Homo sapiens: one gene and its partners. The protein of the gene in region 4 purifies or fractionates together with the protein of the main gene of each other region. This does not show direct contact. Each region holds a gene or a part of one and is shown on either strand. Other genes may lie near its edges.

The links.
Region 1: the proteins of RNASE13 (region 4) and L3HYPDH purify together in Homo sapiens (affinity purification with mass spectrometry; one large-scale study listed by BioGRID and IntAct). This does not show direct contact.
Region 2: the proteins of RNASE13 (region 4) and COL14A1 purify together in Homo sapiens (affinity purification with mass spectrometry; 3 studies listed by BioGRID and IntAct, with this or other methods). This does not show direct contact.
Region 3: the proteins of RNASE13 (region 4) and CD109 purify together in Homo sapiens (affinity purification with mass spectrometry, with the first as the bait; one large-scale study listed by BioGRID). This does not show direct contact.

What each region holds. Positions count from the first base shown.
Region 1 is NC_000014.9:59,473,689-59,478,983, reverse strand, and holds part of L3HYPDH (trans-3-hydroxy-L-proline dehydratase), read left to right. Parts: intron 1-2,769; coding exon 2,770-2,892; intron 2,893-2,977; coding exon 2,978-3,115; coding exon of another isoform or gene 3,116-3,190; exon of another isoform or gene 3,191-3,384; coding exon of another isoform or gene 3,385-3,420; exon of another isoform or gene 3,421-4,457; coding exon of another isoform or gene 4,458-4,469; exon of another isoform or gene 4,470-5,295. UniProt on the Homo sapiens protein: Catalyzes the dehydration of trans-3-hydroxy-L-proline to Delta(1)-pyrroline-2-carboxylate (Pyr2C). May be required to degrade trans-3-hydroxy-L-proline from the diet and originating from the degradation of proteins such as collagen-IV that contain it.
Region 2 is NC_000008.11:120,368,527-120,373,821, reverse strand, and holds the end of COL14A1 (collagen alpha-1(XIV) chain isoform 1 precursor), read right to left. Parts: intron 4,493-5,295; coding exon 4,337-4,492; intron 3,487-4,336; coding exon of another isoform or gene 3,455-3,486; exon of another isoform or gene 3,086-3,454; coding exon of another isoform or gene 2,988-3,085; exon of another isoform or gene 2,671-2,987; coding exon 2,591-2,670; 3' UTR 249-2,590; downstream 1-248. UniProt on the Homo sapiens protein: Plays an adhesive role by integrating collagen bundles. It is probably associated with the surface of interstitial collagen fibrils via COL1.
Region 3 is NC_000006.12:73,761,128-73,766,422, reverse strand, and holds part of CD109 (CD109 antigen isoform 1 preproprotein), read right to left. Parts: intron 4,040-5,295; coding exon 3,943-4,039; intron 3,683-3,942; coding exon 3,541-3,682; intron 2,848-3,540; coding exon 2,738-2,847; intron 494-2,737; coding exon 269-493; intron 1-268. UniProt on the Homo sapiens protein: Modulates negatively TGFB1 signaling in keratinocytes.
Region 4 is NC_000014.9:21,031,697-21,037,375, forward strand, and holds RNASE13 (probable inactive ribonuclease-like protein 13 precursor), read right to left. Parts: upstream 3,112-5,679; 5' UTR 2,960-3,111; intron 2,601-2,959; 5' UTR 2,593-2,600; coding exon 2,122-2,592; 3' UTR 1,122-2,121; downstream 1-1,121. Other genes in the region: TPPP2 (tubulin polymerization-promoting protein family member 2), read left to right, coding at 196-381. UniProt on the Homo sapiens protein: Does not exhibit any ribonuclease activity.

The sequences.
Region 1 (5,295 bases), about 38 Mb from region 4:
TTGAATGTGGCCCAACACAAATTTTGTAAACTTTCTTAAAACATTATGAGTTTTTTTGCAATTTTTTTTTAGCTCATCAGCTCTCGTTAGTGTTAGTGTATCTTATGTGTGGCCCAAGACAATTCTTCTCCCAGTGTGGCCCAGAGAAGCCAAAAGATTGGACATTCCTGCTCTAGAGCAAAACTATCTATGAGTTCTAGCTTTACCACTGGTAACGTATATAACCTTGGGCAAGTTACGTAACCTCCATATGCCTCAGTTTTCCTGTCTGCAAAATGGAAATTAAAAAATACCTGCTTTGTAGGGTTGTGAGAATGAAATAAGTCAATACATGTAAAGGACTTAGAGTAGTGTCTGGCCAATAGTAAATGTTCAGTAAATGATAATATTATTTTTTTTGAGACAGGGTCTTGCTCTGTCACCCAGGCTGTAGTGCAGTGGTGTGATCATAGCTTACTGTAACTTCAAATTCCCAGGCTCAAAATGATGCTTCTGCCTCAGCCTCCAGAGTAACTGGGACCACAGGCATGCCCCATCACACCCAGCTAAATCTGTGTTTGTGTGAGTGTGTGTGTGTGTTTATATAGAGACAGGATGTCACTATGTTGCCCAGGATGGCCTCAAACTCCTGGCCTCAAGTGATTCTCCCAGCTCGGCCTCCCAAAGTGTTGGGATTACAGGTGTGAGCCACCACACCTAGCAGTTACTAAATTTAATAATACATACATACTAATATAGTTTATAGTTCCTTAAATGTGTAGAAATATATTTATAGAATTCTGCAAATTTTAAATGCATGTGTGTGGTCATTCTGTTAAACTTGAAAATAATAAATGTAAAATATAGTGTACAGAATAGATTTAAGCCTTTTTCTTATTTCATAGAGAACATTAATTCCTATTATTTTTTTCCTACATTGCTAAGAAGTTACTCAAATAACTACTTAAATAACTCTAGTTTTTACTTGGGAAAGCTAATTTGATAAAATCAGTTTAGATAATAATTCTAGGATATTCTTTCACTTCTAGCACGAGTGAAGCACATTTTACCTTGAAATTGGGACCTATAAATAAAACACATGTACAGTATTTGAATGTTTAGTACGTGAGAATTTAGTATGTGAGAATTTATTAGTAGTAAAAAGTAACTTGTGTAAGATAGTGTCTAATGTACGAATAATTATCATTTTCTGAAGCTTTATTTTAAAATAATTTATAACTTAAAATGAGAATATACACTGTATCAGTATTCTAAATTATTTTTCTGGTACTGCCAGTACCAATATGTGCAATTATATTATGATAGCAACTTTTGAAGCTCTGAATTTACATCAGTTTTCTGTTCCATTAAGCAGGACAGCTAATAGTCTGAGTTAACAATTTGGCACAAAATAATTTCTCCTAATTTTTCATGAATTCAAGAGAAAAAGTCATGGATATCTTAATAAAAGGTGTAATTTTGTACTTCTCATTTGAGTTTGAACTCAACAAGATGGCAAGGGGTGGACTTTGAGGGAGGAAGGATTCTGAGAAAAATGAGGACAAGTTCTGTTATTGATGTATCAGACAGTACAATTAATTACTCTGTGAACTGTTGACTATTCACACTGCTGAAGCAGATTTAGGAAAAGGCCATGGGGATGGAGAGTTAAAGTTAATATAAATTCATCTTAATTCATTCACTCTTTTAACAAACATTTACCACAAACATACTGTATATATGTTAGACATTCTGCTAGATCCTGGAGACTCGAAGAAAGAACAAACCCCACCTTTGAGGAGCTAGCTCCAGTTGGGGAAGCGAGCATACCTGTGAACAGTGTTATGTTGGAATGTGCTATAGTGGAGGTGGGGCGTATCACTTTAAGAGGATGGAGAACAAAGATTCAATCTGCAGGCCGCTTTAACTTGGTTTCAGATGGACTCTTTGGATGTTAAGAACCCAAAGCTGTTCCATTGCTTTAAATGACATGTAACTGGAAGTAGAAAGTACTAATTGTAAGCATATACAAGGGAAGTCAGATTATAGCAATCTCAGTCATACTGTAAATGTTTGCAGAAATCCAGGAAAAGTTAAAGAACTAGACTTCCAAGAACAAGTAGCTTTGCATATTTGGGCCTGAATCTACCATTGAGTGACTTAGCTACCCTGCCAGTGCCTGCTTCTTTGTGTGCATATCTGCTGCTTTTTGATGAATCAACTGACTTCATCGTCTACAATAAATCTTTTTTTCCTCCAATTGTTTCTCTTGCCTAATAGTTTCTGCATTCTTACAGAATGTTATATCCTCTCACAGCCTTTGTCTCTATCATTGGTGTTAACTTCAGCTCTAGATACTCAGAGCCTGATTTTCCCACATTATCCTCCTTAAGCTCCTGAGAATAAGACTATGATTGCCTTAGCTCATCCTGTTTGAGCAGCCATCGCCAGCCTGTGGATTGACCATCCTGGGGTCAGTGCTGCAAAGACTATGTGTATTTGGGGTGGGAGGGGTGTATAAAATAGGACTGCTTTTTTAGCAAAGGCTATATGCAGGACAGCTTCCTTAGAAGGGACTCAAAGTATGATAAGAATTATAAATTGCAGTAAAACTATGTTTCTTCATCTAGACAAAGACATAATTTCTAGCAATTAGTATACGTTGCCCAAAAAGGTATTTTAAAAATGATAAGGATTAAAAAGTTATGTCTAAGAATGACCCATCTGCATTATTTATAAATTTGAATCAAAATATTTATTTTGCATGTGATCTTTTTTTGTTACTTGCAGTTTAAAATTAATCATCCTGATAGTGAAGACCTTGCCTTTTTATATGGAACTATATTAACAGATGGAAAAGATGCTTATACCAAGGAACCAACCACCAACATTTGTGTTTTTGCAGATGAACAGGTATTAAAACTGTAATGTTTAGGGACAAAAGCCAGGTAATATGGAACACACTATGAACATTCTGTCTTCATTTATTCTGAAACAGGTTGACAGAAGTCCCACTGGCTCAGGAGTGACAGCCCGAATTGCCTTACAGTATCACAAAGGGCTTCTGGAACTGAACCAGATGAGAGCCTTCAAAAGCAGTGCAACTGGCTCAGTATTCACAGGGAAAGCTGTGAGGGTAAGTGGCACCCTTAGCTTCTTATTTATAAATGTGTCACTCATGAGACTGGAGAGGCCTGAGTTGGGTGTTTGATAAATTTCTTCACTCAGCTCTCAGAAGAGAATTTTAAAGCAGGCCTGTAAAAACTTCTTTTCAACTAGGACATTGGTTATCCAGTGTGGTCTTGGGGCCCCAGCGGGCCCCTAAGGTCCTTTCCATGGGTTCAGAGGGTCAAAACTGTGTTCATAATAATGACATTATTTGCTTTTCACTCTCATTCTCTCAAGAGTGTACAGTGGGGTTCTTCAGAGGCTACGATGTGATATGTGATAACCCAACCAATTGAATGCAGAAGCTAGATATGAGAACCTAGTTGTCTTCTGTTAAGCCAGACATGAAACAGGTTTGCAAAAATATCAAACAATGCCACTTTTCTCATAATTTTTTTTGTTTTGGCAAACAGTTATTTTCACAAAAATGTGTTATTCATATGTTAATGTATAATGGGTTATTTTTAAAATGAAGTAATGAACAGATATATCCAATTCCTAATACAGTAAATATTGATAGATATAACTTATATAAAGAAAAACTCTTTGGGGTCCTCAAATCTTAAGGTATAAAAGGGTCCTAAGACCAAAAGGTTTGAGAACCATTAGGATTTGGGGTTTTTTTTTGTTTTTTTGTTTTATTTTATAATAGTGTTTTATTTGATATAATAGGATGTGAAAGCCCTGAAAAGTTGTGGAACATCAAATTTTTGTAATGGAATAAAATTTTAAATGTGCTAACAGCTAAGTAATGAATCTTATCTCAGTAGTAAATGAAATCTACTACAGAATGATCTACATTCAGTAAATTATTCTACTCATAAAGAGTCCTTTAACATAGCAAACAATCTATCCTAATATAGCTGTTTTTAAGATTTGGTGTTTCTGAATATTAGAGTTTCCTTAAGGATCTCTACATCATATAGTGATCTGAAACATGTGAAACCATTTATGTTGTATGCAAAAATTTGGAACATACTGTCTTCAAAATCTGAAATGGAACATAAAAATAACAACATACATTTATTGGATACTTCACTGTGCATCAGTTTCCAAGCTAAGCACTTGATACATGCCATCTCATTTAATCCTCACAAGAATCCTACAAGGTCAGTACTGTGCTGTTATTATCGTTTTTCAATAGATGATAAAACGGAGAATTGGAGAAGTTAGGTAATTTACCAGAGGTTAGTTAGTGAGTAGCAGATCCAGGTCATGAAGGTGGGTCTCTGAACAGACCACATGCTGTTAAGCATTATATTATATTGCTGTCAGACAAAGCAAAAGGTCAATGAGGCTTTATATTATAGGAGCTGTTATGAGAAGAATCTGGGATTGCAATGTCCCCCCAAATAGAGAGGGAGCCGAGAGACCAAAGAATGACTCAGACAAGTCCAGGTTGGCAAGTAGATGCATTTATTAGAACTTCCATATAAGGCACTCCTGGGAAGCAGCTGAACAACTGTGGAGACCCATCCTGCCTCCTGACTCTAAGCTGCTTTTAAGCTAATTTTCTGGCTCTTTGCCTACTGTGTATGTGTGATAGGACTGTTTTCCTTGGTATGTTCCCAGATATTCTCTGGGATATTTGGGTTCTCAGGGATACCTGCTTCTTGGCTGGGCACCATGCCCTTGGCTTACCCCCCAGCCTTCAGGGTTCAAGCAGTGGACATACACCCTTACATAACCTGGTGAAGGACCTGTCACACTACAGCAGCTTTATAAAAAGATATAAAAAGATAAAGTATTATACCCTAACAATATTTGACATTTTACCTTTAGCTTCAGTTATTATTCTTTTAAAAATTAGAACATAAAAAGATATGCTGAAGTTAATGTTTCCAGTTACTTGTTTTATAGTTATTGATCATGCTTGCCAGAATGTCTTCACTTGCATCATGCTCTCTCCCTGTCTGTGTGGGCCCGTCCAGGCTCCCTGATGGTACCTTCTCAGTTTCTTCCCCTGCTGCAGCTTCCTTTCCCTGTCCTTCCATTTAGATGTTACCGTCACTTCATCCCCACCTTCCTTCTCATCTCTTCTACAGTTTGATGCTGCTGGGCAATTTCATCCACTTCCTAGGCTTCAGTTCTCAACCATCTACTGATGATGACTCCCAAATGTTTATCCCTGCCCTGACTACCTACCCT
Region 2 (5,295 bases), on a different chromosome or scaffold from region 4:
ACAGAGCCCACATCTCTTTTGGTGATGGTTTTATCCCCAGAACGAAAACACTCCCTGGTTCACAGTAATATTTGATATGGAAAGATGGGGTGGGGCAGAAGAGGTAAAAAAATTAAAAAAAAAAGAGGAAGAGTTGTTCTAAAATTAAATTGGGGTCTTTTGGAATATAAAATACTACCCTAAAATGACTATTCCCAAAAGAAATGGAGAGTTTGTAACAAATGTGATGAGAATTCTGAAGAGTAATGTATTTTTCATGAAATGATTTATTACTTTTAGAAAACAGTATAAACTTACAAACTATAAATTAAGATATAAGTATATTTCTGCCAAAGTAAGTCAAGAAAAATGCACTTCAGAATCAGCTTTTATTACAGGCAATGTATTGTAAACTCGAACATCCAGAATCTGAGTTACACTTATTATTTTTAACATTTTACTCAATAAAAATCTGATATACTGGGTCCAAGTGATGACACATTCCAAATTAATGTAACTTTCTTGCAGCTTAAATAAACAAATTTAGATCACCAAGTGAAATCAAAGCCAAGTGTATTTGCACAACTCAAGAATGATGTGAATGGATTAGAATCTCTCATAGTGTATACTTCGCCATTTATACACAAACTTTGAGAGTCTTCTGAGTGACATGGTATTTAACTTTGTTTCCAAGGGCCAAATACTAAAATGTATAGAATATCCTACTCTATACTCACTATTAAATGTCATGGACTAGGAAATCTGAGACACAGAATAAGAAGCAACTGATTACACACCCTAGTCATTTAAGTTGGAAGAGTTCTCTTAGGTGACTCTGGGTCAGGCCATCTTGATGAGCCTTAGACAAGTTTTCCTTCCCATAAATCCTGCTTTCTCAGGCAGAATCATATACCATAACTGAAAGGAAATGGCTGCTGATTATCTGCTCATTATCTTCTTTCATTCCCTGCAAAGACACCAAAAAAACTGATTTGTTTAGAACCGCCCCCCGCCCCTGCCCCACCCCACCAAAGGCACACAAGTAGATTGTTTGAATCCTTCAGATGAAGTCTGAAGATGAATCATCTGAAGAATCCTTCAGATGAAGATGAAAGGAGATCTTTCATCTCCAAAGATCAGGAGATTATGAGAAGGACAGAAAGAGAACCTGGTGATCAGACAGACACCATCCTTCGTGTTAGCCTTTTCCTGATCCAGAAAGAATCCAGCTTCTAGTTGTAAATGATCCCATCCCTACTTTCTAAAGTTAGCTGTTACTAGGGAGATGTTACAGAGAAGGAGCACGTATTAAATTTATGGTTCTCTTTTGTTTCTATTTCAACTAGCACATAATAGAATTCAAATCTTTCTCAAATACCTAGATTTTTCCTTTGTGAGCAAAAGACAAAGTATGGTTTAAGGGTTAGAGTCTATTAGATTCAACCTCATTTCTGCTCTGCCTTCTAGGGGTTTTTAGGCTTTCCTCAATATCAGAAGATAGGTGGGCTCCTCAGTCAACTATTGATAAACATTTATTTAGCAGAGGTCATGCATTTGCAGGGTCTTTGCTGCCTGCTAGATTATAAATGAACAATAAAATGTCGCTAATCTCTTAGTCCCAAGTTAACTGCTTCTTCTGTTTTCTACTGCACTCAGAATGAATGAATGAGTGAGTGAGTAAACGAATGAATGAAAGTTTGAATGCTTACCTAAAGGAAGACAACTGTTGTCTTTCTGGTGGACACTCAGTTAAGACTACAAAAGCTTAAGGTGATACTTAGAAATGCAGGAAAAAGAATCCACATACATTGTTTTAAAGTTTTATTTGCTTACAAAAGAAAATGGAAATAGGTTTGCGAAAACTTATCTGCATGTACAAAGTAATCCCCGTAGATAAGGAGAGGCAACCCCTGGAACACACTGCTGGATAAATCGTTCATTAAAATTATATCTCTTTGCATCAGAGCTGGTGGAAAATCATTATTTCACATGAGTTAAAACCACTGAAAAACTAAATCTGTTTCTTAAACTACCAAATTCAGAAAGCTTAAATCCAAATGCTGATTTTTGGATACACATGAAACCAGTTACCAAGTGATCTCAGAGTTGGACAGATCAATTAAACAAGAGGTAGTTTCTCCAATATTGTCCCTTTTTTTCTTATCAGCAAGGTTATTCCTACAGCAAGTAGGAGTAAGTGACATATTCTTTGAACCTCTTTGAATTCTTTTCCTGCTAGGGACATATTTCCCTCAAACACAATCATATCTGTTTGTTCATTTTAGGACTTGAGAGAGAAGATTCCAGAGTTCAATTTATTTTTCCCAATTCCTCTTTGAGCTCTCTTCTCTGGAAAAACAAATTATCTGACATGCCATTAAGACACCAAAGGGAAATCATTGCTACCATGTCATAGATTAAGGGAACTTTTTAAAAATATATATTTTTTGTTAATAATAATAATAATATTAACATTATCCAAGGAGGAGATTTAGGCTGCTGAAATGAGCCCTGCCCCCCAAAAGTAGCATACAAACCACATAACAACATTTTCTCAAACAAGATTCCTTAAGAGTTCTTGCAGTTGGTCTTCAAATTTCTCCTGAGGCTATCAGACTCCAGGGCCCCACAGTTCCATGGCTTCCAGCTCATCTTGGACAGGGGTGAACTCTGGCTGATCTGGATGGGGAGCTAAAGAGGAAAAGTGGGGGTGGGGACTTGCTGCACCCAGGAATCATAAATTGATATTCTCCCCTCACCTGGGTCCTTAGAGACACAGAGATATCCTGCTGGGTAAAAAGCAGTGGATGTCTTAATCCACCACGCCCCTTGTACCTTCCCCATAAGGTTTCAGACAGTTAGTAAATAGACGAAGGGAAAGATACATTACAGAAATTGTTAGAAAACTAGAATCATAACCAACCATTTAAATATTATGTTTTATTTACAGAAGAAACCCTGAAAACTCAGCAAAATTATAAAAGAAATAGAAATTTTTTTAAAAAATCTCATGTTAGAAGTCCATCACCAGGGAAGAGCAGGGAGGGGAGGTGATCAGGGGAGGAAGGGAGAGTAGGGTGGTCAAGGAGAAAGATGCCCATCCATCCTGTGTGGGGAGAGGAAGGAGGAAGAGGCACAGTTAAGTAACTTTATTATGAAGCTGTCACACAGGGGAGTCTGGGATAAATTCTTGGCACACGATCATATACCTCTATCCAGGCTGACATGGAGCAGTCAGTGTCTATTAAAATAGACATATATGATTTGGTTAAGTTCCGATGTTATCACTCCATCATGTTTGGAGCAGAGTGGGCAAGAGGTTTGAAAGTGGGAAGGCAGGGATGCAGAAGAAGCAGGGAAGCAGAGTGTCCATTGTTAGGGGCAGGGGCTTGGTGGTGGTGGTGGTTGACAGGACAGTTCTGTATCCACAGCTAAATGTCTGGGGCCAATGGAACCAGAGTGGAGGATTTCCACTTCAGTGCTGGTAATCATTGTAGGGGATCAGATCTTAATAAGGATAGGAGTATTTGAGAGAACAGGGAGGGAAAAGATGAACAGAGAAAAACACATCAGCAAAACTTTGTTGACCAATTCCTGTGATAACTAAGGTTAAATTTCTACTGAAGCAGAAAATTTTAAACCCATTAACTAGTAAGTTCATGGCCCCACAGCAGTCCCTCAGCCTCTCCCTTGATGCTTCCAAGAGTGACTATGTCAGAAAAGGGGCCATTGCACAGCACGCCAGCATGCACACTGCAGATGTTTTAGGAAGCATATTCTTTTAGTCCAGTAGCTAGTGATAAGACAAGGACAGCATGATTTTTGTTTCCTCTCACAACTATTCTTGGTCACCTAAAATGTGGTGCTTAAATGCACCTAAATGCAAGTGGTATGCATGATTTCATTGAAAATAATCTAAGGAGCCCTCTTAATTACGGGAGAAGTTCTAAGTTTGACATTTCCCCAAACCAAGAGTAAAATTTTATGGGACGTCTTGGCCACATCACAGCTGTCACATAAGAATGGAGACTCCAAAAGAATGTTCAACCATGTCCTCCAAATGTGCTAAATACAAAGTCAGAGGCCAAGTCTATGTAGGTCATCACTGGGAAGCAAGGAAGACTTAGATGTGCTGTTATTTTGAATTTGCTCTTAAGGTTTTTAAGGGAGTAGCCTCTATAGCAATTTGCACTTTATAGAAAATGTCTCGGGATAATTTAAGGAAGTGAGGCATTCAAGCTCTGCTTCCCATTCATAACCAATTTAACTTTTTTCATAGCACTATCTTCCCATTTTGGTACTAAGCATACTAAAACATTGATCAAAGCCCACAAGCGGGGCTTTTTGTGACACTTACCTCTCACACCATAGGCAGAACATGATGAGGGGTCACAATATCCAGGCTGGCCAGAAGGACCTTGGGGTCCAGGAACCCCCAGATGACCTGGTGGGCCTCTTGGTCCAGGAGAGCCAGGGGGCCCAGGGCTGCCAGGCCGACTCTCCCCTGAAGGTCCTAAGAAGTACCCACAGATGAAAACCGTTGGTCTTTTGCCACAACAGGGTGAGTTTTGAGACAACCAAGAAGTAAACTAACTCTTAGAAGAAGCAACTTTTAGGACAATTAGGACAACCTCTTTCTACTCATTGAGTTCTTTTTTGTAGACTGGATTCCCTAGGCAGAGGGTCATAGTGTAATCACTTATCCTCCTGGAGGTCAATGCTCTCAATCAGCTCAGGAAACTGGCAAGCAAAATGCATCTTTTCTATTTCCTCTTGGATGTTAAAGGGAAAGGAACCTTCCATTATCAACCTTATTTTCTTTTTGGAGCTTTTGTTTCCCAATGCAGTTCCTTATGAATCCAATCTATGGGCGTGCACACACACAGACACAAACATGAACACACTCAGAGCTCAACCTCATCATCTAGTTAGAATAGCCATGCAATTCAGTACCAGTTTATGGCCCCAGATAATTAAAGCTCAACCTCATCAACAGTTAGAATAGCCATGTAATTCAGTACTGGTTTATGGCCCTAGATAATTAAAGTAAATTTGTATGAGTGTGAAATTGTCCTGGAGGGGACCAATGACAAGTTTGACATTCGACCCAATATACTAATCCAAAATTTCTTTAAGCTAGTTTACATTAATTGAGAATTCAGACTGAGTAAAAATAGGAGGATTAAAACTGTTGTGAATTGAAGAAATTTGTCAGCATGTTTTTTTTTTTTTTTTTGGCTTGTATGCTTGTTTTTAGGTCCGGGTTCCAACAGTGTTGAAAAGGCATTCTTCAACTATAATGGAATTTCTCAACTA
Region 3 (5,295 bases), on a different chromosome or scaffold from region 4:
CTAGACTGGGGATTTGAGGAAATTCTCCATCATATCTTCACATTGCTATATTTTACTGTGCTCTTCAAAATGAACTTACAAGGAAAAATTTAGTCTAACCTTCAGCCACTGTCATTAAATTACTTTTACCACTCTCCTCCATTTTGTGAAACAGAAACATGTGTCCACTTCCTATGTACTTTCAGTTCTGACAGGTTGAGTGCCTACCACAAGATTACAACTGTAATGGTGTTGTTGCAGTGACACAATGATGGGAAACAGACGGCACCTTCAACTGTAGCTCACTGGAATCCTCCAGGATTGGGAATTCAATCTTAAAAGTTCCACTTTGGGGGACAGTATAATTTATTTTCTGAACAGCTTCCATTTTCTGATTTCCACTGTTAGATCCGCTCCAGTACTCAGTATAGTTTCTCTGTGTCACTGTTATGACTACATTATTTCTTCTTTCTTCAAGAGTCAGTTGGTTGCCATCAGCACGAGTTACCTTCACCTAATGGTCAAAACAAAACATCTTAAAAACACAAAGGATTTAAGTACGATTAAATACAGTTTCCGTCTGTAGTATTCTCATGAAATTGAACTCTCAAAAATTATTGGTAGCACTATAATATCCAGATTCAGTGGCCTCTCTCTAGGAGGCATCCAACATCACTGATTACTCCCTTGTTAATATTATGGATTCCCTTAACTTCCGCGGCTCCAAAATAACCCCCTTCACTTCCTACCTCTCTTTCTGCATCCTCTCAGTGTCCTTTTCAGTTCCTCTTTCCTCTCCCTAAATGTGGGAATTTTGGACATCTGTTCTTCTCCCTTCCTCCAAGGTCTCAGCAATCCTATTGCTTAGCTTGTCATCTCTGTGATTGTACCCTAAAGCCAAAATTCCCATCCTTGCCCTTCTCTGGAGTTCATGCCCAACACCTCCAGTTACCTGCAGGAAATTTCTACTTGGATATCCTGGACACCTTGAATTCACATATCTAAAATGAGCAACCATGTCATTTTCCTATTTTCGCTAACATCAGGATTTTGCAAGACTTTACATTTCTGAATTTTCCCTCCCTCTCCCCACCCCCCAAATCCAATGAACACCAAAGTCCTATGCTTCTCTCTTCCATCCTCTCCACTCCCACAGCTACCACCACAAGGCTGCCCATCCCCTCACTCCTGGGCTACAGCCATCCTCCTGCACACAGCCTGAGCAGTCTCCCTCAAACACTACCTGAGTGCACCCCGAAATTGCCAGCCAGACCTCTCCTTCTTGTCTCACTTCTTATCTTGCTCCCCACCTCCCACTCCCATGCCCAAGCATTTAAAACACAACTAATCTTTTAAAAAACAGTTTAGACCATCCTCTTCCATAAAGCATCCCATAGTAACCCCCATGCCTATCCCACAGCCAACTCTCCCCCTCTGAACGCCCATGGTTTCACTCTACTCATTCAGAAATTACCATTTGCAGCCTCAATTTTTTAAACTGACCTTTTCAAACTGCCTAAATTAAGATCATTGAAATCAGAAACTACCTGAAACGTCTACCGACCCATTCAACAAGTGACCCCTCCATTCTTTCTTTGTCGTTTTAGTTGTTTTTTTTTTTTTTTTTGAAATGGAGTTCCACTTTTGTTGCCCAGGCTGGAGTGCAATGGCGCAATCTCCACTCACCACAACCTCCGCCTCCCGGGTTCAAGCGATTCTTCTGCCTCAGCCTCCCGAGTAGTTGGAATTACAGGCATGTGCCACCACGCCCGCCTAATTTTTTGTGTTTTTAGTGGAGATGGGGTTTCTCCATGTTGGTCAGGCTGGTCTCGAACTCCTAACCTCAGGTGATCCGCCTGCCTCGGCCTCCCAAAGTGCTGGGATTACAGGCATGAGCCACCACGCCAGGCCTGACTCCTCCTTTCTTTAAATCAGAGATCAGCCAACTACTGCAAGCTGATAGGCCAATCCAGTATGTTTGTAAACAAAGTTTTACTGGAACACATTCCACTCTCACTTATTTATAAATTGGCTATGGCTGCTTTCACACTACAATGGCAGGGCTGAGTAGCTGTGACAAAGACCACATGGCCACAAAGCTGAAAATATTTACTCTCTAGCCCTTTGCAGAAAAAGTTTGGCAACCCCTGCTTTAAATCCCTACAGAAATTAATTTGTAACACTAATCTTAATCTGCCATGAGTTATAGTTAAGTATATATTTTCCTGTCACCATCACAAAAACTGTGAACCTGAGGGTAGGGACTGAGCCCTTCTTGGCTCTATAGCCCTGCCCAACACCATGCCTTGCTCATTGTCAACATTCACACAATTAATGTGTTAATTCAACATTATCTCCAAAAAATGAGATTTGTTGATAATTTTTTAATGTAACATCTTTGTTAGAACTACAATTAATCATTATAAAAACCAAATTGAAATTGAAATTTTTGACTACCATGTAATTATTTCAATTAATTAATAAAAGCTTCAGTGTAGCAATCCACATCTAACTTAAATTGCTTGTAAAAAAAAATACATTTTCAAAAAATATTTTTACTGTTGTTGAAAACTACTTTTTTAGAAAAAATAGACAAAGGTCATTTGGAAACAAATCTACATGCCCCACATGTCTAAAGAGACAAAGTTATATACTTTTTGGCTTAAATTTTTAGAAAAGCATTGAAAATATTATTTCCCATTCTATTTCATTAAGCTGAACTTACTGCTATGGACTGGAAATAAATATACCAACTTACAGTGGCTGTGAAGTTGAGAGATGGCTTCAAGACAGTAGTATAATCAAAAAACTCAATGATGTAATCATGTTGCTTGAAGAACACATTAGTGCTTACATTTCTTGAAATACCTTTTTTGGAAATTGCACAATTTAGAAAGCAAAAGTAATGTTTCACCCAAAGCTTCTATCCACCAAATCTCTCCATCTAACCTATTGCAAAAAGGGTTAAAAATATCAGGGCACATAAGCCTCATTCCCATATTGACTTTGACACTACAAGCACCACACAGTTCTATTATGTTCTCTATGGATCCCCTCTAAGCACCATTGCTGCCATTCTACCGCAGTGACATGTACAACAGCAGCAAATTAAGGCCAATGAAAGAATAGTCTTTTGCTCTTTCAGGGATTGGCTAAAGTTGTTGAAATAGTAACAGAAAGGTCCAAGAAACTCAACTTTATTTTCTTATTAAAAGTGAAAACTGTCTAGGAACAGCTGAGATTTCAGTGATTTTAAAAAGAAGAAGGTTACCAGCTGAAAATGTAAGCCTTTCCATGTAGTTTTCAGGGGGAAAGAGTAGAAATGGAAAAAAAAATTAAGAAGAGCTATCACATGTGGTTGAAGTAGTGACTTTCATAGAAAATAAGGTCCCCCTTATAAAATCATCCTGCAACTTAGACTAACAGTCATAACAATTTCAACATTAAATAGCATCTTTAGAAAGTCAATGATGCTCCCAAATGAAAGTGCCAGTTATAATAAGAAAGATGATAAAGCAGTGTCACATGAATAGTTTTACCTCCACTTTAAAGTCTACAAACCTGTAACTGATTCTGTCACTGTGGTTAAAATTTCTACTGGTCCAGGGGAAGATAGATCCAGGTATTCAGAAAGTCCATTTGAAGAATCCATTACATTTTTCATCTCTTCATCATTAAAAGAGAAGTTTGCAGATCCATTTATCTGTTTTGTTTAAAAGTTCAGTATTATTTACCATTTTAGCAATTCAAATTTTAGAAATAAAACTCAAACTAAGTCACAACAATATGATAGCTCTGGTACCATTTTAATCGCTATAATTGCATAAATTCTCATTTGTTCAATGCTGGAAAGCTCTTGATTTTCTTACACTTAACTTTTTGTTAATTCAGTACTAAATCTTATTTCTAGAAAAATACACATATTTTACCCATCACAAGTTATAAAGTGTCTGCAAAAGTTACCTTAAATGTTTTTGTAATATTTTTCTTCTTTCCCCAAAAGGATAAAGGTAAAAATGTAAGCGTTACGTCTCCTTTCACTGGCTTCCCATATGTATACCTGAATAATTATAAACATAGTCTTTTTATGTATCAACTTGATATTGTCAGAACACAATAAAAATACTACTTTCAATAGCATACATTAGCAATTAGCAATCTAACATTTTAAAAAATTACATTGGGCTGGGAGCGGTGGCTCACGCCTGTAATCCCAGCACTTTGGGAGGCCGAGGCGGGTGGATCACGAGGTCAGGAGTGCAAGACCAGCCTGGCCAACATAGTGAAACCCTGTCTCTACTAAAAATACAAAAATCAGCTGGGCATGGTGGCAGGCACCTGTACTCCCAGCTACTTTGGAGGCTGAGGCAGGAGAACTGCTTGAACCCAGGAAGTGGAGGTTGCAGTGAGCCGAGATCGCATCACTGCACTCCAGCCTGGACAACACAGCAAGACAGCAAGACTCTGTCTCAAAATAAATAAATTAAAAAAAAATACATTATGGGATGGCAAAACACTAAAAAGAGAAAATTTTAAAAAGAAAAAAGTTACATTAAAAACATACTCCTACTATAATTTTTTAAACTAAACCCAACAAAAATGTCTTTAATAAACGGTGATCCTGGATGGGCACGGTGGCTCATGCCTGTAATCCCAGCACTTTGGGAGGCCGAGGCTGGTGGATCACGAGGTCAGGAGTTCAAGACCAGCCTGGCCAAGATGGTGAAACCCCATCTCTACTAAAAATGCAAAAAAATTAGCCAGGCGTGGTGGTGGGTGCCTGTAATCCCAGCTACTTGGAGGCTGAGGCAGAGAACTGTTTGAACCCAGGAGGTGGAGGCTGCAGTGAGCCAAGATCGTGCCACTGCACTCCAGCCTGGGCAACAGAGTGAGACTCCAACTCAAAAAATAAATAAATAAATAAAAAATAAATGGTGATCCTTGAAATTAAGTTTCCAAAATGGGAAGACTTTTAACTATAGTAGCTTAAAACAGTTCTTAACACACACTCTGCCCAACCTCTGACCATCTGAAAGACTCCAGAAAATACCTGATCATAATTGGAAGTGACAGTTTCCTGTCCAAAGATTTTTTAAAGATTACATAAATCTTTCACTCCTAGAAATCTGGACTGGCCCATTAACTGAATGCCCACGAAACTTCGCAGCTTTAGAAGATTTTTAAATGTCAGCTGATAGTGCAATCACCATGGTCTATTGCTACATGTTCCAATATTAGCGAGGAAGGTTTATTACACCATAGATTCTGAAGCACCAAATGTGCTCATGGCTGTCAAAAATTGATTTTTTGCCAAAA
Region 4 (5,679 bases):
CCTCCCCCATGAGTGAACGGCTCTTACCAGAGTACCTGCCCACAGCTGTATCTGGGCCCTAAGAAAGCAGCACCCCATGCCAGTGGCAGAGCAAGAGCTCCAAGCACTTGTTCTAAGTATCTCGGGCCATCTTTGGGGAAGGGATATGACAGCGTAAGGAAAGGAAGAGAGCTCAAATCCATCCCTGGCTTGCAGAAAGCAACAACAGTGGGTGCAGTGGACCGTTTGACAGACACCAGCAAGTACACCGGCACCCACAAGGAGCGCTTTGATGAGAGTGGCAAGGGCAAGGGCATTGCGGGACGGGAAGAGATGACTGACAACACAGGCTATGTGAGTGGTTACAAGGGTTCTGGCACCTACGATAAGAAGACCAAGTAGAGAGGAGCTTCATCTCAGCCTGCTAGCCCCCTGACCCTGCATGTTTAACACCAGGGAGCTTGGAAAACAATAAACATCTGTGTGTGCAGCAGCCAAAATCTCTGTCTGTGAGGGACAGATGAGCCTACTAGTGTAGAGAGAGGGAGAAGAGGCAGCACAGGAGGGTGGGTTCTCCACCACACACCCTTCGCTCTGCTTAGCCTTATGCCTACCAGCCATCAGTTAGCATTCCTCCTCAACAGCTGCTTCCAAGAACAGGATGGAAGAATATATTTGGAGTAAAGAGATGAACCAGATGTGGAGGTAAAAGTATCTACTACTTGTGTTCACACATTACTGATATCCACCTCTCCACCCCCACCCCTCAAAAGGGTGTAGCAATTCCTCACGTGATGGACTATGACTATATCACATATTAGATCCTTCCCTGTCCCTCCACCTTCCTCATCTGTTGCAATTCAGGTTTTTTGGGTGGAGGAGTAGAAGCCAGCTAAGGTTGCCTGACTTCTATTACAAATTTGTTCCAGAGCTGGGGTAAGGGGAGAGTCTATTTTCAACACCCAGCCCAGAACTAAGTTTTACCCCACATCACCTCCATCATGGGGCACATGGGACAGAAGAGCTTACTGACTGCTAAGGGTAGCTCAGGAAGATGGCCAGATGAGGCAGGCTGCCAGGATTCCAAGAGCAGGAGTTCTGGTGCACTGAAGAAAAAGCAATTAAATCACAACAGAGTCAGATGTGTGTTATTAACTTTTTATTTTGAATTGATTATGGGTTGACAGGAAGTTACAAAAAATGGTACAGAGGGGGCTCGTGTGCCCTTCACCCAGTTTCCCCCAATGGTTACATCTTACATACTCAGATGTGGTTTTAGAAATTTATGTTCGATTAGAGCCGGGCCTGCCTCATTCGCTGCCTGGTCAGGGGCAGACTCTGGAGTCTGGGGGATTTGGGAGGAGCTTCTGGAAGAGAAGGGAAGCAGGAACCTCTGGGGAATGGGTGAGAGAAGATACCTTGAAATGCCAGTGAGCCAAGGTAAGAAGACTGGAAGAAAAAGAGGTTGGAAAAAGGAAGGCAGGGTGACTACGGTTGTTGGGAGTGTGGGGGAGACAGTCCTAGGCTCCATGGTAAGAGGAAGCAGGAGAGGACAGTTATATGAAGGGAGAAACCATGATTTCACAGAGAGAAGCAGGCTGGAAACTGGGGGTTGTGGGGAAGTGAGGCTAACATGAGTCTGAGGGCCTCAGGGAGGTTCCTATAGCTAGCCATATCCCCTGAGTAGGTGGGTGAGTGGAGGGAATTATAAGGGAACTGGGGGAGGCTGACATGAGAAGGCTGGTGGGGATGGGGAGGTGAGACTCGGAGCTGGTGCCTGTTGCCATGGTGTGAGCTGAGGCCCTGGGCCTCCATCCAGGACTTAGGATCTGGCCCAGTGGGTGGACAGTCACTGCCAACTGGACACAGTCAACTTCTTGGGTGGGTTTTACTGTCTCTGGGAGAGGAAGGATGATGAGGAGGTGGGGGCGAAGAGGGGGTAAACAAGCTGGAAAGAACCTAGAAGATAGCACCACTTTGCATGGTGATCAAAGCCCTGGACATTTTCGCACCCACCTGGTCTCTTGGGAGGGGACCCTGCCTGCCTCGTAAGTCAGGAAGGAAGTCTTGTTACAGGGATCAGAGTGTTGGAAATGGAGACAGCTGGCCTGTGGTGGTAGAGGTTGGGGAGTGGCTCAGGAATTAAATTCCCGAATAGAGACCAGCGATACCTATTGGATCAGCTTCATACTTGCGGGAGCAGAGTAGGTAGAGCTTCTGGTTGGTTAGGGTGCTATTGTAGTAGCAGCTAGTGGGTGGCTGTTGGTGGCTCAGGGAGCAGACCGTGATGGGGAGGGAATCCTGGGTGAGTGTGCAGTATTCATTGTAATTCTCACAGAAGCTGTCACTATACTTGCAGAACTTCTGGATGGCCTTCCAAGGGGCATGTATCACATAATGGATCTTTGGGCAATCTGAATTTTGCATCTTGCCTCGCATATAGGACATCAGACCATTACAATAGCCCCGGAAACCCTTTGGGTAGTTAACCCTGGGATAGTCAATGCTTAAGGTATAGAAGTTCCTGCTGCCAATCTGCATCTTGATGTCCATGACCAGAGTTGGCCCCAGAACAAGCTGGAGGAAAAGGAGCCGGGTCACAGCTGGTGCCATTCCTCCTGCTGGTAGAGTTAAGGTGGTTGGGGGCAGCAGTGGGCCTGAAGTGGCTGTCTGCCACATCCCAGAGCCTCCAGCATTCCCAACCCAACAGTACTTTAGAGATCATCTCACCCATAACCAAGTTCTCATGACCCAGAAAGAGGAGATGCTTGCCCAAGGCCACCCAGACAACCAGCCACCTTCAGCCAGCCCTGCTCCCCTGGTCCACCACAGAATCTCAGCCTCTGCAGAGTCCGTGAGCTACATTTGCAGAATAAGAGCTCTAACTGGTCCTTGGGTGAGAGACTCTTCCCAAGAGTCCTTGGGCCCCTGGCACTCCTGCTAGTAAAAAATGCAGAGAAGAAAGAAGGAGCAGGCTGACCTGACAATTCTCTGGCAGCTGGGAGGAAGGACAGGAGCTGAAGATAGCTGGGTAGGGACGTGTATTCTTCTTGCCAAGGCCAAGACAGTCAAGAGATGAGGAGAGGCTAGAAAGGTTTCTAGGTAAAAATCAGTCTGGGAGGAGGGAATGTCCCCGAGTTTGATGAGCCCCTGTGCTAAGAGGGTTGGATGGGTGGGAGGAAAGAGGCATTACTATCTGGTCTCCTCCTCTACAGTGTCATTGGAACACTTACTTCCAATCTCCTTGCCAAAAGTTCCTAAGTGCCTGGGCTTTCTTTGATGTTTTCTCTGTTCCATAGCCTGTGCTCTCGTGGCAAGGTGAGTAGGAAAGCACTGTTATGTTTCTGAGGAACAAAGTGCTTCTTATTCCTGACCCTCAGAGAACAGAGCATTCGCCACTTTGTCATCCCACTCACGGGAGCCCAGGAGGGCATGTACTCAGGGGCCTCCCACCAAAGTGCTGGGCTGAGAATCAAAGACCTCCATGTGGACTCCCCACGGTCCCTATCAGCCTTACTCCTGTCACACCCACAGCCTTCACCTGTGACCTCAGGCCCTGTCAGAGTTTGAGCACTACTGGAAATCTCTGCATGCTGACTCTGAAGCCTCAAACTTGGCAGTTTGGATTTGAAAGCATAACCTGAACATGAAAAGCTGTGGATGCCAGAGCCTGGCATGATCCGTTTCGTACTGTTGGTTGATCTCTGAGTGGTTTGCCATGCTGGGGAAAGGGCCACGCTCCTATCTTTTTCATCAACATCTTCCCTTTCATCAGAATCAAAGAGCCAGCTCCCTGGAAACTGCTAGCTCTTGCCCTTGACTTCCACAGGTCACTCAGCCTTGTTAGTCTGCAAGGTGTCTTCCAGATTTGGGGCCTCCTCTTAGGAGAGCCTTTTTACCTTTGCTGGGCAGCAGAAAAGGGGAGTCAGAACACAGAAAGCTGAGTGCTCCAACACCCTCAGTATAGCTCAGGAGGAGGGAGTAAGGCCGCAGAGAGAAAGATTGGTGTTCCTCATGTAGAGCCCCCTAAACTGGCACTTTCTGACAGCACAAACCACAGTCCAAAATGGAATCCATCCTCCCCATAACTTGTTTCTCTTCCTGTTTTGTCAACTCAGTTTCCCTGGTTACCTATGCAAGAAACCTGAAAGTGATCCTAGACCCCTCCACCTCCCCAATCCCAGCTACGGGGAGGCGGTCCTGCATGGTGGTTAAGATCAAGGCTTTTGAGTGAAACAGACCAGGAATTGAATCCTGCCTCTGCAGCTTACAAACTGCACACCATCTATCTGTTTACGAAACCACTGAAAGCTTCCTTGTTTCATCTGTTCATGAGGATAGTATTTTTTACCTCACGGCAGTATGAGGATCCATTAAGATGTATATCAAGAGTTTTTAGACCAGTGCCCGGCACATGGTGAGTCCTCAGTATGAGCCTGAGTCCATCAGTCACACAGCCCTGACAATCTTAAACTTTTCCCAAGCCCATCTCTTCCATTCTTATTTCTTCCTCAGTGGATGCTCTCGTCTCGCCTGGACAGCACACACACTCCAACTCCAGTAAGACTCAACTCAAATATATCTCTTATACAACTTCAAGAGAAAAAGTGTGATCCCTTCTTTCGTCTAAAAGTCTGCAATAGCTTGTTTCTCATAGGGTAGGGGTGCCCAGTCTTTTGGCTTCCCTGGGCCACATTGGAAGAAGAATTGTCTTGGGCCGCACATAAAATACACTATCACTAACGATAGCTGATGAGCTTAAAACATGCAAAAAAATTCATAATGTTTTAAGAAAGTTTACGAATTTGTGTTGGGCTGCATTCAAAGCCATCCTGGGCCACATGTGACCCGCGGGCCATGGGTTGGACAAGCTTGTCGTAGGGTATAGTCCAAACTACATCTCACAGGACATAAGACTTCCCATGATCTTGCACCTGCCCATGTGTACAACTGCATCTGCATCCCTGCCTGCTTCCCACCTTGTCCCCCACCTCCTCTATGCCCTATCTGCTGCTGTCTCCTCTACCTGGAACCCTGCTGCTGCACCGTTCCTCGCCCCCATCTATTCCATGGTGCTAGCTCATAGAAAGACTCAACCCAGAGGTCCCACTTAGAAAGCCTCTGCTGGGAAGACCTCGCCAAGGAAGTGGGCACCGTCAAGCAAGTGAGGATAGAGCCCACATGGGCAGGTGGCTCATCTGTATTCTTCAGGCTGCTCAACAAGACAACACTGAGCGGGTGCCAATGCAGGGTGTCGCCTGAGCCTGGCTGACTCAGGCCTTTGCTTTGAGGAAGCCAACCACATTGTGGTCCCTGCCTTGAATCATGCCACCTCTTCCCTGGTCCCTCAAGGCTGCAGCTTCCCTGAGAATAGAAAGGGACTTTTTATACCTTTTGTTCTTCCTCTTCCTTCATTCCCCAGCCACCCATCACCGCTCTTCGCTCCCCCCACCCAACACCACTCACTTCTGCCGCACAATTACAGAAACTGAACAGCACATTATAGAGGAAAGCATTCAGGACTTAAATGATTTAATGATGATGAGCCTTCGGCTTCCCAACTGCAATCCTGGTGATCTGTTCCCTAAAATCCTGTCCTAGAGGTGCTGATGCATAAGATTACTTCATCCATTCTGACAACCTCATCATGGTGTCATGTGCTCCGTAAGCCTGAGATTAGTGGGATTGTTACCCCATTAC